Regions from separate parts of the Homo sapiens genome. Here region 1 is linked to region 2. Evidence: fine-mapped QTL for protein levels in blood plasma. A gene starts in region 2. The other region holds a variant in brackets. All regions are shown on one strand. Distances are between the middles of the regions. Region 1 holds the start of LINC01989 (long intergenic non-protein coding RNA 1989). Region 2 holds the start of CCL11 (C-C motif chemokine ligand 11).

The links. A credible set is the group of variants that fine-mapping cannot tell apart. PIP is the chance, under the fine-mapping model, that this variant and not a neighbour inherited with it causes the effect. Protein levels are from antibody-based Olink assays in UK Biobank. Linkage for the fine-mapping came from a reference panel and not from the study's own genotypes, which makes the PIPs less certain.
Region 1: its variant is the best candidate, but not a certain one, in a credible set for the plasma level of the CCL11 protein (UK Biobank, PIP 0.51).

The regions. Positions count from the first base shown.
Region 1 is chr17:34,183,594-34,191,935 of GRCh38, reverse strand. LINC01989 (long intergenic non-protein coding RNA 1989) reads left to right here and starts at 8,304. Exons shown (of 6, transcript NR_110748.1): 1 at 8,304-8,342. The variant T/C (reference allele first, on the strand shown) is at 5,079.
Region 2 is chr17:34,281,609-34,289,901 of GRCh38, reverse strand. CCL11 (C-C motif chemokine ligand 11) reads right to left here and starts at 4,160. Exons shown (of 3, transcript NM_002986.3): 1 at 4,018-4,160; 2 at 2,695-2,806; 3 at 1,568-2,317. The coding sequence starts at 4,093. The coding sequence ends at 2,212.

The DNA.
Region 1 (8,342 bases), 98 kb after region 2:
CCTGGGAGTAGAATTACTGGGTCACAGAGTATGTATATATTCTTTATAGCAGATACTCACAGATAGCTTTCCAGAGTGGTTGTAGTAATTTACAATCCCATTAGCAGTATTTAAGATGTCCAGTTGCCTACACCCTTACCCACACTTAGTACTTTCTGTCTTATTTATTTAGCTATTCTAGTGTGAGTGATACTGAGGTTTGAATTTCCATTTTCATGATGACTCATCAGGCCATACACATTTTTGTAGCTTTATTGGTCATTTTTATATCTATGTAACTGTATCTTCAAGTTTTTTGCCTTCTTTTTATTGAGTTGCTTTAAAAAAAAACTGACTACTAGGAGATCTTCATATAGTTGGGATTTGTGTTCATTGTTAGATATGTATGTTGTAAATATCATCTTTTACTCTTTGGGTTGCCTTTTCACTCTTTTGTGTCCTTTGATGACACCATTAACGTTTTAATACAATCTAATACATTACTTTTTTCTCTTACGGTTGCATTTTTGGTAACATGTTTAAGAAATCTTTGTCGTCTCCAATATCATAATCATGTTTTCTTATATAAGCTTAATGTTTCTTATCTTCAGATTTAGATGTGCAATCCACTTGCAATTGATTTTTTTAATTATAGTTTAAGTTCTAGGGTACATGTGCACAACGTGCAGGTTTGTTACATATGTATACATGTGCCATGCTGGTGTGCTGCACCCATTAACTCGTCATTTACATTAGGTATATCTCCTAATGCTATCAATTGATTTTTGTGTATGATGTGAGGTAGAAGGATAAAATATATCCTTTCATATGGGTATCCAACTGACCCAGAACCATTGATTAAGATGCCTGTCTTTTCTCCACTGCCTAAGAGATGCACACTGTATGAATGAATATTACACAGCAATGAGCATGAATGATTTAAAACTATATTTGACGATATGGATGAATCTCACTAACAAGGTTGAATGGAGGAAGACACATACAAAAGGGCAGCAAATATGATTTTTTTGTATGTCACAAATCAGGCAGCCATGTATGTGGAAGACTGTAACCACTGTATTTTTTTTTTTTTTTTTGAGACAGAGTCTCACTCTGTCACCCAGGATGGAGTGCAGTGGTGCAGTCACAGCTCACTGCAGCCTCAACCTCCTGGGCTCAAGCAATTCTCCCACTTCAGCCTCTGGAGTAGCTGGGACTACAGGCACATGCCACCACGCCTGAGCTAATTGTTGTGTTTTTTTTGTTTGTTTTTGTTTTTGTTTTGTAGATATAGAACCTTGACATGTTTCTCAGGCTGGTCTGAAACTCCTGGGGCTCAAGCGATCCACCTGCCTCCACCTCTCAAAGTGCTGAGATTACAGGTATGGGCCTCCATGCCCAGTCTCTATTCTATCTCATTTATCAATTTAACTATTCTTGTGCAAATACCAAAAATGTCTTAATTACTAAAACTTTAAAATAGATCTTACTCACTGGTAATATAAGCCCTGTAGCTTTATTCTTCTGCAAGGTTGCCTTGGCTATTCCTGGGTCTTTGGATTTTTATATAAATTTTAGTATAAGATTATCAATTACCACACAAATACCTGCTGTGATTTTTTATTGAGATTGTGCTCGTCTGTTTTTGATCTTCCCAATTAACTTCATTCTGTCAAGAATTAATAAAAAAATCCCCTTGGATTTTTGATTCAGATTTTATTAATTTCATAATTTAATAAGATTTTATTAATTTCATAATTAATTTCATAATTGTCATATATTGAATTATTTTTTATTATTTCATGACTGTGGACATTGATTTCTTCACCAGATCATCAGAAACTGTTGGAGAAGTTCTTGATCTATAATTCTTTTGTTCTCTGCATAATTTTATGGAATCTGTGGTCAAATAGCATTTAATATGTGTTTCCTGGATATACCTCATAAACTCTTGCAAAATGATCTTATCAAATACTTTTCTCGAATATTCTGGTGTGGGTGCTCCTTGGCTCTTCTCTTCATTCAAGTATTTATTTGAGTATTTATTAATTCACCCAGGAGAGCCACTTGCATAGTCTAGTCTTAGGTATTGATACATCTGTTAAATATTTAGGTACCTTCCTTTTCTTTAGAAAGCTTTCACTCCAATAAAGACAATGAATGCAAAACCAACTATCTAAAATATTGTCTGTTAAGTGCTAGAGATTTAGAGCTATGGGAAGGCCTAACTCTAGCTGAGAACCCACCGTGAGGTTGATAATTTTAGTGAAGTTGGAAGTTGAGCTACGTCTTGACACATGAGCAGGCATAGAGTCCACGACTCGGAGAGAAAATAAGGAGCATTCTGGGTGAGAAGAAAAAAGACATGAAAGCATGAAAATTCATTCATCTCTGAGGAATATGGATATAAGTTCAGTAAAGCTGAGAAATAACAGGCTGGAATGAGAGACAGGTGAAGCTGAACATATTTAGGTAAAGGAGGTAAAGGTCGGATTATGAATGAGTTTTTTTTTTTTTTTTTTGAGACGGAATCTCGCTGTCACCAGGCTGGAGTGCAGTGGTGTGATCTTGGCTCACTGCAACCTCCACCTCCTGGGTTCAAGCGATTCTCCTGCCTCAGCCTCCAGAGTAGCTGAGACTACAGGCACGCGCCACCACACCTGGTTAATTTGTGTATTTTTAGTAGACACGGGGCTTCACCGTGTTGGCCAGGATGGTCTCGATCTCTTGGCCTCGTGATCTGCCCATCTCGGCCTCCCAAAGTCCTAGGATTACAGGCATGAGCCACCGTGCCCAGCCCATAAATGGCTTTTTAATATGAGCTGGTGATTTTTTTTTTTTAACTTTACTATTCAAAGTGATTAATTTAAGAGAGTGTCGGCCGGGCACGGTGGCTCACGCCTGTAATTGTAGCACTTTGGGAGGCCAAGGAGGGCAGATCATGAGGTCAGGAGATCGAGACTTTCATGCGCGTCTGTGTGAAGAGACCACCAAACAGGCTTTGTGTGAGCAACATGGCTGTTTATTTCACCTGGGTGCAGGTGGGCTGAGTCAGCGAAGGGAGATAGGGGTGGGGCCGTTTTATAGGATTTGGGAAGGTAATGGAAAATTACAGTCAAAGGGGGTTGTTCTCTGGTGGGCAGGGGCAGGGGTCACAAGGTGCTCAGTGGGGGAGCTTCTGAGCCAGGAGTAGGAAATTCACAGGGTTAATCACTCAGTTAAGGTGGGGCAGGAACAAATCACAATGGTGGAATGTCATCAGTTAAGGCGGGGCAGGGCCTTTCCACTTCTTTTGTGATTCTTCAGTTACTTCAGGCCATCTGGGTGTATATGTGCAAGTCACAGGGGATGCGTTGGCTTGGCTTGGGCTCAGAGGCCTGACATTCCTGCCTTCTTATATTAATAAGAAAAATAAAACAAAATACTGTTGAAGTGTTGGGGCGGCGAAAATTTTTGGGGGTGGTATGGAGAGAGAATGGGCGATGTTTCTCAGGGCTGCTTCAAGCGGGATTAGGGGCGGCGTGGGAACCTAGAGTGGGAGAGATTAAGCTGAAGGGAGGTCTTGTGGTAAGGGGTGATATTTTGGGGTTGTTAGAAGAAACATTTGTCGTACAGAATGATTGGTGATGGCCTGGATACGGTTTTGTATGAATTGAAAAACTAAATGGAATAAGAGAAGGAGAAAAACAGGTATAAAAGGTCTAAGAATTGGGAGGACCTAGGACATCTGATTAGAGAGTGCCTAAGGAGATTCAGCATAGTCCTGCCAGCAAAGATTATTTATTTACTTCAAGAGTTTAGAGTGGCAGTTTGGGGATAGCAGCAGGAGATATCTGTGATGGCTTGGAGAAACAGTGTAAACCAGCAGTATAAACAAGAGCAGGGCATGTATGAGTAGTTGAGAATGGTGAATAGGAGTATGACTAGACAAAAGATAGTAGGGATGACAAGTTTTTTTGGGGGCACAGTCTAAGTTGGTCTGGTGTCAAATGAGACTGGGGCCTAATAAAAAGGAGCGTCTATACAGGAGCTTAAATGGGCTCCTGTACACCTTGTAGCATTCTGAGGACAAGCCTGAATTCTGAGAAGAGAAAGTGGTAAAAGTATTGTCCAGTCCTTTTTAAGTTGTTGGCTGAGCTTGGTGAGATGTGTTTTTAAAAGACCCTTTAGTCCGTTCTACTTTTCTTGAGGACCGTAAGGGATATAAAGGTTTCACTGAATACTAAGAGCCTGAAAAACTGCTTGGCTGATTTGACTAATAAAGGCTGGTCTGTTATCAGACTGTATAGAGATGGGAAGGCCAAACTGAGGAATTATGTCTGACAGAAGGGAAGAAATTACTGTGGTGGCCTTCTCAGACCCTGTAGGAAAGGCCTTTACTTATTCAGTGAAAGTGTCTATTTAGACTAAGAGGTCTAATAGTTTAGTTTCCTGACTCGGGACATGTTGAGTAAAGCTAATTTGCCAGTCCTGGGTGGGGGCAAATCCTCGAGCTTGATGTGTAGGGCAGGGAGGGGGCGTGAATAATCCCTGAGGAGGAGTAGAATAGCAAATGGAACACTGAGAAGTTATTTCCTTGAGGATAGATTTCCACGACGGAAAGGAAATGAGAGGTTCTGAGAGGCGGGCTAGTGGCTTGTACTATAGCATAGCCTGCCTTTGCTGGTGTGTGGCGATTAGGCCTGGTGGAACTGCCATCAATAAATCAAGCGTGATCAGGGTGAGGAATAGGAAAGAAGGAAATACGGGGAAATGGGGTGAATATCAGGTGGATCAGAGAGATACAGTCATGGGGATCAGGTGTGGTATCAAGAATAATGTGGGAGGCCAGATTGAAGTCTGGGCCAGGAACAATGGTAATTGTGGGACTTAAAGAGTGAGTACAGCTGAAGGAGCCAGGGAGCAGAAAGTATATGCGTCAGGTATGAGGAAGAAAATAGATTTTGGAAGTTATGAGAAATGTAGAGAGTGAGTTGAGCATAGTTTTTGATTTTTAGGGCCTCTAACAGTATTAAAGCAGTGGCAGCTGCTGCACGCAGACATGAGGGCTAGGCTAAAACAGTAAGGTCAAGTTGTTTGGACAGAAAGGCTACACGGTG[T/C]GGTCCTGGCTCTTGTGTAAGAATTCTGACCGCACTAACCATGCCTAGGAAGGAAAGGAGTTGTTCTTTTGTAAGGGATTGAGGTTTGGGAGATTAATCAGACACGATCAGCAGGGAGAGCACATGTGTTTTTGTGAGAATTATGCCGAGATAGGTAACAGATGAGGATGAAATTTGGGCTTGACTGAAGTAATGGGGGCTGTCTGTGAAGCCTTGCGGCAGTACAGCCCAGGTAATTTGCTGAGCCTAATGGGTGTCAGGGTCAGTCTAAGTGAAGGCAAAGAGAGGCTGGGATGAAGGGTGCAAAGGAATAGTAAAGAAAGCATGTTTGAGATCCAGAACAGAATAATGGGTAGTAGAGGGAGGTATTGAGGATAGGAGAGTATATGGGTTTGGCACCATGGAGTGGATAGGCAAAACAATTTGGTTGATAAGGCGCAGATTCTGAACTAACTTGTAAGCCTTGTCTGGTTTTAGGACAGGTAAAATGGGGGAATGGTAAGGAGAGTTTATAGGTTTTAGAAGCCCATGCTGTAGCAGGCGAGTGATAACAGGCTTTAATCCTTTTAAAGCGTGCTGAGGGATTGGATATTGGCGTTGAGTGGGGTAAGGGTGATTAGGTTTTAATGGGATGGTAATGGGCATGTGATCAGTTGCCAGGGAAGGAGTAGAGATGTCCCATACTTGTGGGTTAAGGTAGGGGGATATGAGAGGAAGACGCGAAGGAGGCTTTGGGTTGGGGAGAAGGACGGCAATGAGATGTGGCTGTAGTCCAGGAATCGTCAGGGAAGCAGATAATTTAGTTAAACTGTCTCGGCCTAATAAGGGAACTGGGCAGGTGGGGACAACTAAAAAGGAGTGCTTAAAGGAGTATTGCCTAAGTTGGCACTAGAGTTGGGGAGTTTTAAGAGGTTTAGAAGCCTGGCTGTCAATACCCACAACAGTTATGGAGGCAAGGGAAACAGGCCCTTGAAAAGAAGGTAATGTGGAGTGGGTAGCCTCCGTATTGATTAAGAAGGGGACGGGTTTACCTTCCACTGTGAGAGTTACCCGAAGCTCGGCGTCTGTGATGGTCTAGGGGGCTTCCGAGGTGATTGGGCAGTGTCAGTCTTCAGCCGCTAAGCCAAGAAGATCTGGGAAGGAGTCAGTCAGAGAGCCTTGGGCCAGAGTTCCAGGGGCTCTGGGAGTGGCTGCCAGGTGAGTTGAACAGTCTGATTTTCAGTGGGGTCCCACACAGATGGGACGCGGCTTAGGAGGAATCCCAGGCTGCGGGCATTCCTTGGCCCAGTGGCCAGATTTCCCGCACATGTAGCAAGCTCCTGGGGGAGGAGGTTCTGGAGGAATGCCTGGCTGCTGCGGTTCAGGCGTTTGGAAGTTCTTGTGTGCTGGAGATGTGGCTGGGGTTTGTCTCACAGTGGAGGCAAGGAATTGTAACTTTTTTCTGTTATTGTACACCTTGAAGGTGAGGTTAATTAAGTCCTGTTGTGGGGTTTGAGGGCCAGATTCCAATTTTTGGAGTTTTATTTAATGTCGGGAGCAGATTTGGGTAATAAAATGTATATTGAGAATAAGATGGCCTTTTGACCTTTTAGGGTCTAGGGCTGTAAAGCGTCTCAGCGTTGCTGCCAAACGAGCAATGAACTGGGCTGGATTTTTATATTTGATGAAAAAGCCTAAACGCTATCTGATTTGGGATAAAGAAAAAGGAGCATTAACCTTGACTATGCCTTTGGCTCCAGCCACCTTTTTAAGAGTAAATTGCTGGGCAGGTGGGGGAGGGCTAGTCACAGAACGAAACTGTAAGCCGGACCAGGTGTGAGGAGGGGAGGTGATAAAAAGATTATAGGGTGGAGGAGCAGAGGCTGAGGAAGAATTGGGACCTAGCTCGGCCTGGCGAGGAGCAGCCTGGGGAGGAAGGGAGAGGTCAGATGGGTCTGTAAAAAAGGAAGATTAGAAAGACTCAGCTATGCTTGGGGTTGGTACTGAGGGGACAGGTGGGAGGGAAAGAAGGAAGATTTGGGACGAGTTGCACTGGGCACAGAGACTAGGAAGGGACTGATGTGTAAAAGAATGCCTGGACGTCAGGCACCTCAGACCGTTTGCCTATTTTACGACAGGAATTATTTGGATTTTGCAGGATGGAAAAATTCAAAGTGCCATTTTCTGGCTATTTGGAACTATTGACGAGTTTGTATTGGGGTCAAGCGGCATTGCAGAAGAAAATAAGGCATTTAGGTTTTAGGCCAGGTGTGAGTTGAAGAGGTTTTAAGTTTTTGAGAACACAGGCCAAGGGAGTAGAAGGAGGAATGGAGGGTGGAAGGTTGCCTATAGTGAAGGAAGCAAGCCTAGAGAAAAGAGAGAGTAGAGAAACGGAGGGAAGGGGTTCGGGGGTTCTTACCTTCCAGAAAAGTGGGAAAAGGGGTTGGGGCGCAGAGATAAGAGGTCGGGGCATGGAAATAAGGGATGGGACTCAGAAATAAGGGGTCGGGGCATGGAAATAAGGGGTCGGGGCACAGAAATAAGCGGTCGGGGCACAGAGATACGAGGTTGGGGTGCAGAAATAAGTGATTGGGGATTCTTGCCCCCTAGAAAAGCAGGACTTGCCACTAAGGGTGAAAGAGAAGGGGTTGAGGGGTACTTGCCCCTGCCCCAGGAAAGTGGGACTTGCCGCTAAGGGTGAAGGAGAAGGGGTTGAGGGGTACTTGCCCCTGCCCCAGGAAAGCAGAAAAGGGGTAGAGACAAGGAGAGAAGGGGTTGAAGTACTTGCCCCTTCCCCAGAAAAGCGGGACTTGCCGCTAAGGGTGAAGGACCAAGGCAGGCATCCCTGCGTGGTCTGACACCCTTGAAACGTGGGTGTATAATCAGAGAGGTGTCCCTGCAGTTATTAAACACCAAGGGAAGGCTGCCTTCCCAGTCCGTGACCGGCACTGGAGTTTTGGGTCCACGGATAAAACATGTCTCCTTTGTCTCTCCCAGAAAATGAAAGGAATTGAAATTAAGACAAGGGAGAGATTGAAGAGTGGAAAGGAGAAAGTGGTTGAGGAACAGTGAGAGAAGTTGGAGAAGAAAGTAAGAAGAGGCCGCTTACCTGATTTAAAATTGGTGAGATGTTCCTTGGGCTGGTGGGTCTGAGGACCTGAGGTCGTAGGTGGATCTTTCTCACGGAGCAAAGAACAGGAGGACAGGGGATTGATCTCCCAAGGGAGGTCCCCCGATCCGAGTCACGGCACCAAATTTCATACGCGTCCGTGTGAAGAGACCACC
Region 2 (8,293 bases):
ACCCTCTGACAACATTCCCTCCCTCAATGGGTGGAGGTAGTGATGCTTTCCAAGAGGTAGTGCTCTCAGAACAGGAGATCTTGGTGGGTCATTGGTCAGATCCCTTAAAAGATATTAATATACCCCTATTATGGATGGGGTAACTAAAGCCAAAAGTAACACAGTGACAGAGACCAGTTCTCTGTCTGTGATGAAACTGAGGTCATCTGCCTCCTAGATCAGTGCCCTTCCTAATGTCTCATTCTGTTCTTTATATTGCCTTGTGCCATTGCCACCACACAGTCCAAGGGGGACAGCCTTATGAATGGTGCCTCTGGGAGCTTTGCATGCAGCGACCCTGCTGGGCATGCATGACACAGTAGGCCATTGGCCCTCCAGATCAATGGCCTTAGACCATGCAGAGTTATACCAGCAGGGCACCTGTGACCCTTTTCTACCCTTGGGGACATAGTTGGTCTCTGCGTTCAGGTACATAGGTAATGTGACCAATGGAAACGCAAGCTGATTTTGTATGCTGAAAGGGAATCCTGATTTAAGTTGCTTATACAGGAAGATGAGGTCCTGTCCATTTGATTGAAAGCTCTCAAGCTAGTAAAGTTAAGGTGTGAGTAAACAGTGACAGAGAGAAATTAATTTTCTGGGTCTAAGAAGCTAACCTTTAATTGCAGCTTTGGCATTTAGAAAGTTTCCATGTCATTGGTTCTACTTCTTCAACCACAACATTTGGCATTCCACCCTGCCTCAGCCATTCTTCCAATTATCTTCTCCCCTCCCAACTACCAATGCCCCAGTTCCATATCTTCCATACACTGCAATAGTGAGCTAAGTGCTTCTCCCTTCTCCTCCCAATTCAGCCCATGGCCACCTGGCTGCCCTTCCTGAAGCCCCTCATAGTGTGGTCATGGCACTTCTCTCCACTGAATCAAAACTTGCAATGCATTCTATTCCTAGAGTGACCACATGCTCCAGTTTGCTTAGGACAGTGTTAATTTATATCCGTTGTTCCAGAATAATTATGAATAATACCACTTTTCTGCTCTCAAAAGCATCCTAACTGGGCTGGGAAGAACCATATGTTCACCTTACATGGAGCACAAACTCCCCACCTAGACAGCCTGGTCTCAAACTTCTTTCCAAATTTCCCCACCATTTCACACATACTCCAACACTGACATCTTTTGATGGGCTCCCACCCAACTGGGTAAATGCAGCATGATCATTCCTACTTCTTGGATTTTGCCCAAGCAACACCCCTTCTCCTCTACCTAGACTGAAATACCTCCAGCAGAGCCTCTCCACTTTGTGCATGCACAAGACCCACTTTAAGCTCCACCACACCTGTAAAACCTGCACCTAAACCTCTGGTCAAAGGTCACCTAGCCTTCCTCTGATTTCCAGTGTCTGTCATGTCTGCCTAGTCTGGGTTGGAAGACCGAGGAGCAGGGTCGGGTAGAGGGAGATACCACAGGGCTGTTAAAATAGGTCCCAGGAGAGGCAAGTATGAGGTGGGGAGGAAAGGAATGGTGGCAAAGCTCCAGATATTTTCGTGGCTGAAGTTTGGGGTCTGGGAAATACTGTTGAAAATGGGAATAGAGGGCTGGAATGGGTTTGTCAGTTTCACCCTGCATTTCAATGAAGACCAGCTAAGCCAAAAACTCATTTCCCAGGGACATAGTTCCCACCCCCTTAACCAAGCCCCTCTTGGCCACAGCCATCTTTGTCCCCCTCAGCTCAGTGTGGATTTCCCACAAAAAAATTACAACTAGTGACTATAATAAAATATGCACATACTTTATGTATTCCTAAAACAACATTTACTTCCATTTAATGAGTCACACTTTGGGTTCACAAGAACAATGACATTTTCATACTGATCATCTTTGCCAGGACCTTTACAAGATTCCAGGGAGGAAGAGAGGAGAGGGGGAACATTGCCCACACGTGACAGGGGATCGAATTGGGGCTCCCAGGGGGTAAAGAATCTGCACAAAGCTTTACAGTTTAAAAATAACTGATATTCATGGAGGATAAGTTTTAAAGCCTCAATAAATTAAATGCAATACGTTTTTTTTTTAAAAAAAAAAATATATATATATAATAAAACCCATGCCCTTTGGACTGATAATGAGGTTACCTCAGAATGCATTGTAAGAAGGGAAAACAAATTAGGCAACACTCAGGCTCTGGTTTGGTTTCAAAAATGGTGATTATTTATGGCTTTGGAGTTGGAGATTTTTGGTCCAGATACTTCATGGAATCCTGCACCCACTTCTTCTTGGGGTCGGCACAGATATCCTTGGCCAGTTTGGTCTTGAAGCTGTGGGAGATACAGGATGCAATTGGAAGGATTGTTTTTGAAAATTCTGCCCATTTGACCCTAAATATTTAAGGACCATCTGCCCCTGGACAAAGGGTTGCTACGGAGAGGAGGAAGGATGAGACTCTTGGGTTAGTTGCTGCTCTTAAAGGCCCAGTAAAACCATCTTTGCTCTTGACTTGAAGAAATTGATATGACTACAGCAATCTCCCAGGCAGGGAGCTGGGAGTGAACACTCACTTGTGAAAATTAATGAATTGGACCATAGAGGTCAAACTATCAGAGTCTATGACTCCCAGCAACTGTGACACAGTTCTTGACTCTGTGCCCTAGACATTATTTTTTTGTCTAGGGGAGGGTGAACTTTATTTACTTACATCACAGCTTTCTGGGGACATTTGCCACTGGTGATTCTCCTGTAGCTCTCTAGTCGCTGAAGGGGTATCTTCCTATTGGCCAGGTTAAAGCAGCAGGTGGTTGGGACAGAAGCTGAATTTTGGGGAAAAAAAATGAACAGAGAAAAAAATGAGCCACATGATGATACATAGACATTTCCAAGCATGACTTTGTAAAGGAAGTTAGGAGAAAGCAAGGAATTGCGAGAGGTGGAGGGAGAATCCCTCTGCTCTGAAGTCTTATGTGTCTGGAGGATGCTGTCCTGTGTCTTCAGCATCCTCCCCTGTGCACTGAGGACTCATCATTACTGTAGAGTGTATGGACAAAGCTTGGTCAATGTGACAAATGCTAGCTCTGTCATTATAAAGACCTACGTGGCCATGTGATGGTCATGGTAATTTTCACCAAATATTCTCCATCCTCTGTTTTGAGACACAAGGTAGACTTGCATTTCTTGGCCACTTTTGTTTGGTTGGAGGCATTAATTAGTTTTGATCAATAAAGAAGGAGACAAAGTGATGGGTGTCATTTTTGAGCCACAGTGCATTGCCTATGCAAGACTCCTGAGAGCTTTCTTCTGCTTTATCACAGTATCCATCAATGTTCCCCCACATGGGCAACTTCTCCATCAGTCTAGAATCCTGAGTATAAAATGCAGAAGCCTGAGCCCATACATTATAGATATTTAGTACAAGTGAGAAAGTAACTTTTGTTAATTTAGTTAATTCTGTTAAGTCATTGATAATTTAGAACTGTTTGTTACCATGCTATGCACTGGCTCAGTGGGACCGATACACTCAGTAAATTTGTCACCAGAGTATGGGAAAATGAGTTATGGAACAAATCTCCTAGATAACTTTCCCAAAGAGTGTCAAAATAAGTCACCTCAAGAGATCCCCCTGGGACCTCGTTCTTCTCTTAGCCACTGTCTCTGAAAGCTGTCCTGGAGTCGAATTAACATACTGAGCTTCTAATCAACAGATTTTCCTTCTCTCCCACTGCCAAAAATGCCCACCATGCCCACAGTAAGACAGAGCCATTCCCCATTCCCAAACACTGTAAGGATAGCTGGGTATGGATGCACCCAGCAACCCTCTTGAATGTGGGGAAAAGACTCGGGAGCTTTCTAGTTCTGGCTCTTCCAGTGACTGGATGTGAGGTTGAGGCATTTCTTGTCCACCCACAAAACCTGTTTCCCTATTTTTCAAATGGAGAATTTGCAGTGAGTCTGTAAAGATTCTTGCTGACCTAGTAGCTCTGGAGGTGGTTACCTTACCTTTCCTGTAAGGAGTTGGGGGGCTTACCTGGCCCAGCGAGCCCCTGGGGGCTGAAGGCAGCTGCTATGAGCAGCAGCCACAGAAGTGCTGCGGAGACCTTCATGTTGGAGGCTGAAGGTGTGAGCTTTGGCGTGAGAGGTGGTGGTTTCTGGGTTGGTCTCAGCCTCTCTGCTCCTCTGGCCCATCTGCCTGCCTTTTATAGGGAGCAGACAGTGTGGGAGATTCCAGGGAAGCCTTTGCCCATGCGGGGGTCACGATGAAGGGATTCCTGATTGCTGACCAGATTCCAGATCCTAGGAAGTCAAGCAGAACAGAAGAGAGGCAAGCTAGTAGGAGGGACTTGGTACATTTTTTAATCCATCTGGATCTTGCCTTGGAAAAGGAGGGGAATATGTGGTTATGAAATGAAGTTAAACATCTGTAGTGGGGGAAGAGAGCAAGAAAACCAAGGCCCTAGGGGATGAGTTGAAATGAAACACCTGTAGTTGGGGAAAGGAGCAAGGAAACCAAAGGCCTGGGGGATGAGTCGATCTAAGAACCTTCCTTGATTCCTGTGTTCACATGGTGGTCTTGAGGATTTTGGAGACCAGGAAGGAGCCCCAAAACTTCCATTAGGCTCCCACCCAGATGCAGAGAGAGCTCAGCAGCCCTGCACATAGTTGCATCTCTGAACCAGGAAGGACAACACACCACAGCTTTGCTGCTGTGTTTCAATGTAATGATCACAGAATCTTAGTCCCTGAAATTTTAGCATGATAGGACATCAGAACTGGATAGTTTCTATTAATCTTGACTTCTGAGGCACTTTAAAACCATTTGCTTAGCTGCTAAAGCCCTTTTCCAAATGGAATTAAAACAAACCCCAACTCATCAAATACACTGTAGTGAAGGGGATTTGTTTGAAATAGAATAGGCAGCCTCTCGTGCCCTTATTCCCCAGGGAACACATTTAGGGAACACATTTGGAAAATCAATCATCTAGTTCCCCCCTCACTCTCTGAGCACACATTGCAGACAAGGTATCTGATGGCTAAAAATATCAAAGAGAGAGGCAACACAAGAACCTATACATATCCCTTTGTTCATAACACTAGGCACCCTAGTTGGAGAGGGTATAAGGGAGGCAAAGTCTTTAATGGAGTCACTGCAGCGGATTACAGCATTGAATACTGGTGTGGAGGTACTGCAAACCTGTTTCCTGTTTTTTCCTGCACACTCTCATATCAAATTGATTGATTGGTACAGTAGCACAAACAAGAATGTTAAAGATTCTGAGGAGTTGACTTGCGTTAGTTAAATACTGTGTTGTGGTTGACTGGTGATGTCTGTCATGGGCACAGGATTAGAGACAGCTCTTGCTGTCCTGCAAAGTCTCTAAGTGCCCATCTAGGATAATTGGTCTATAATTACCTAAAAAGTTAACTATAATTACCAAATAGAGGCCAAAAATGTGGAGTCTTCCCTGTTCTTTCCTGCTCCATTCCTGGTGGGTTAGTCTAATGTAGAACCTGAATTCAGGATATCTGCATTTGGATGATGGCTCTGTGACTGACTAGCTGTGATACCATGGACAACTTACTTAACCACTCTCTGCTAGGGTAAGAGCAGGATACTAATCATGTGTACTTTAGGGAATTGTCGTGTGAATTAAATGAGTTCATGTATCTAAACTGCTTAGAAGAATGACTAAATCACTGTAGGTACTCAGTGAGTAGAAGTTACTGTTTTTTATTATTAGGAAATAGGGCCGGGTACAGTGGCTCACACTTGTAATCCCAGCACTTTGGGAGACTGAGGCAGGCAGATCACTTGAGGTCAGGAGTTCAAGACCAGCCTGGCCAACATGGTGAAAACCTGTCTTTACTAAAAATACAAAAAATTAGCCAGCCATGGTGGATGGTGTTTGTAGTCTCAGCTACTCAGGAAGCTGAGGCATGAGAATTGCTTGAACACAGGAGACAAAGGTTGCAATGGGCAGAGATCATGCCACTGCACTCCAACCTGGGCAACAGAGTGAGACTGTGTCTCAAAAAAAAAAAAAAAAGAAGGGCAGATTGGGAATGCTGGAAAGACCTCAGAGTCTGGATATTTCTCCAAATATTCTTCCAAGTTTTCCCACTGCTTCCAAGTAAAGATATGCTACCGCAGGGATGGTTTCCAAGAATGCCTGAGTTGCACATGTGGCAGATACGAAGTTTTAAAAAATTCTCGGCAGAATAAATTTGGAATATTATTGACCTCAGAGGTGTTTGTCTGACGTGGTTTAATGATTGTTTCTGTAGTAAGAATAATTTCATAACTCTGGCGGGAATTTAAAGGAATTATCAGCAAGCGATTATTCATTTTTGTGTTTTCCTTGAAAAATGGCTTTGGAGTTAATGGGCTTTGGATTTACTCTACACCTGAAAAACCTCAGTGGCTCAGTGGAAATAAATAAAATCAATCTTTAGATATCCAAGCTCTGCAGCTGTTTCATCCAGCTCACTGGCCATCCCTAGCAAGCAGGGGCAGCTTCAAGGGCTTTTTCTCTTTCTTTCTTGGAGGCTTTCTTTTCAGCAATGAAGTAGAGTAGACCAATTTCTTGCCTGTGATTTGGTGCCTGATGAATGAGGGGCCTTGATCAGGAATGATCCTGAGTGATGGGCAGGAAATGGATCCCCCCTTGTGAAAACAAAATATTGACTTCTAAAGAGTTTTTTTTCTTTTTTTTAATTGGAAAAGGTATCTTTTATTTTTATTATTATTCTTTAAGTTCTGAGATACATGTGCAGAGCGTGCAGGTTTGTTACATAGGTATACATGTGCCATGGTGGTTTGCTGCACCCATCAACTCGTCATCTACATTAGGTATTTGTCCTAATGCTCTCCCTCCCCTTGCCTGCCATCCACCGACAGGCCCCAGTGTGTGATGTTCCCCTCCCTGTTTCCATGTGTACTCATTGTTCAACTCCCACTTACGAGTGAGAGCATGCAGTGTTTGGTTTTCTGTTCCTGTGTTAGTTTGCTGAGAGTGATGGCTTCCAGCTTCATCCACGTCCCTGCAACGGACATGAACTCATTCCTTTTTATGGCTGCATAGTATTCCATGGTGTATATATGCCACGTTTTCTTTATCCAGTCTATTATTGATGGGCATTTGGGTTGGTTGAAGTCTTTGCTATTGCAAATAGTGCTGCAGTAAACATAACGTGTACATGTTTCTTTACAATAGAATGATTTATAATCCTTATATACCCGGTAATGGGATTGTTGGGTCAAATGGTATTTCTGATTCTAGATCCTTGAGGAATCACCACACTGTCTTCCACAACGGTTGAACTAATTTATACTCCTCCCACCAACAGTGTAAAAGTGTTCCTATTTCTCTACATCCTTTCCAGCATCTGTTGTTTCCTGACTTTTTAATGATTGACATTCTAACTGGCATGTGATGGTATCTCATTGTGGTTATGATTTGCATTTCTCTAATGACCAGTGATGATGAGCTTTTTTTCATATGTTTGTTGATCACATAAATGTCTTCTTTTGAGAAGTGTCTGTTCATATCCTTCACTCACTTTTTGATGGGATTTTTTTTTCTTGTAAATGTTTTTAAGGTCCTTGTAGATTCTGGATATTAGCCCTTTGTTGGGTGGATAGATTGCAAAAATTTTGTCCCATTCTGTAGGTTGCCTGTTCACTCTGACGATAGTTTCTTTTGCTGTGAAGAAGCTCTTTAGTTTAATTAGATCCCGCTTGTCAATTTTGGCTTTTGTTGCCATTGCTTTTGGTGTTTTAGTCATGAAGACTTTGCTCATGCTTATCTCCTGAATGGTATTGCCTGGGTTTTCTTCTAGGGTTTTTATGGTTTTATGTCTTGCCTTTAAGTCTTTAATCCATCTTGAGTTAATTTTTGTATAAGGTGTAAGGAAGGGGTCCAGTTTCAGTTTTCTGTATATGGCTAGCCAGTTTTCCCAACACTATTTATTAAATAGGGAGCCCTTTCCGCATTGCTTGTTCTTGTCAGATTTGTCAAAGATCACATGGTTGTAGATTTGTGGTGTTATTTCTGAGGCTCTGTTCTGTTCCATTGGTCTATATGTCTGTTTTGGTACCAGTACCTTGCTGTTTTTGTTATTGTAGGCTTGTTGCATAGTTTGAAGTCAGGTAGCATGATGCCTCCAGCTTTGATCTTTTTGCTTAGGAATGTCTTGGCTATATGGGGTCTTTTTTGGTTTCATATGAAATTTAAAGTAGTTTTTTCTAATTCTGCAAAGAAAGTCAATGGTAGCTTGATGGGAATAGCACTGAATCTATAAATTAC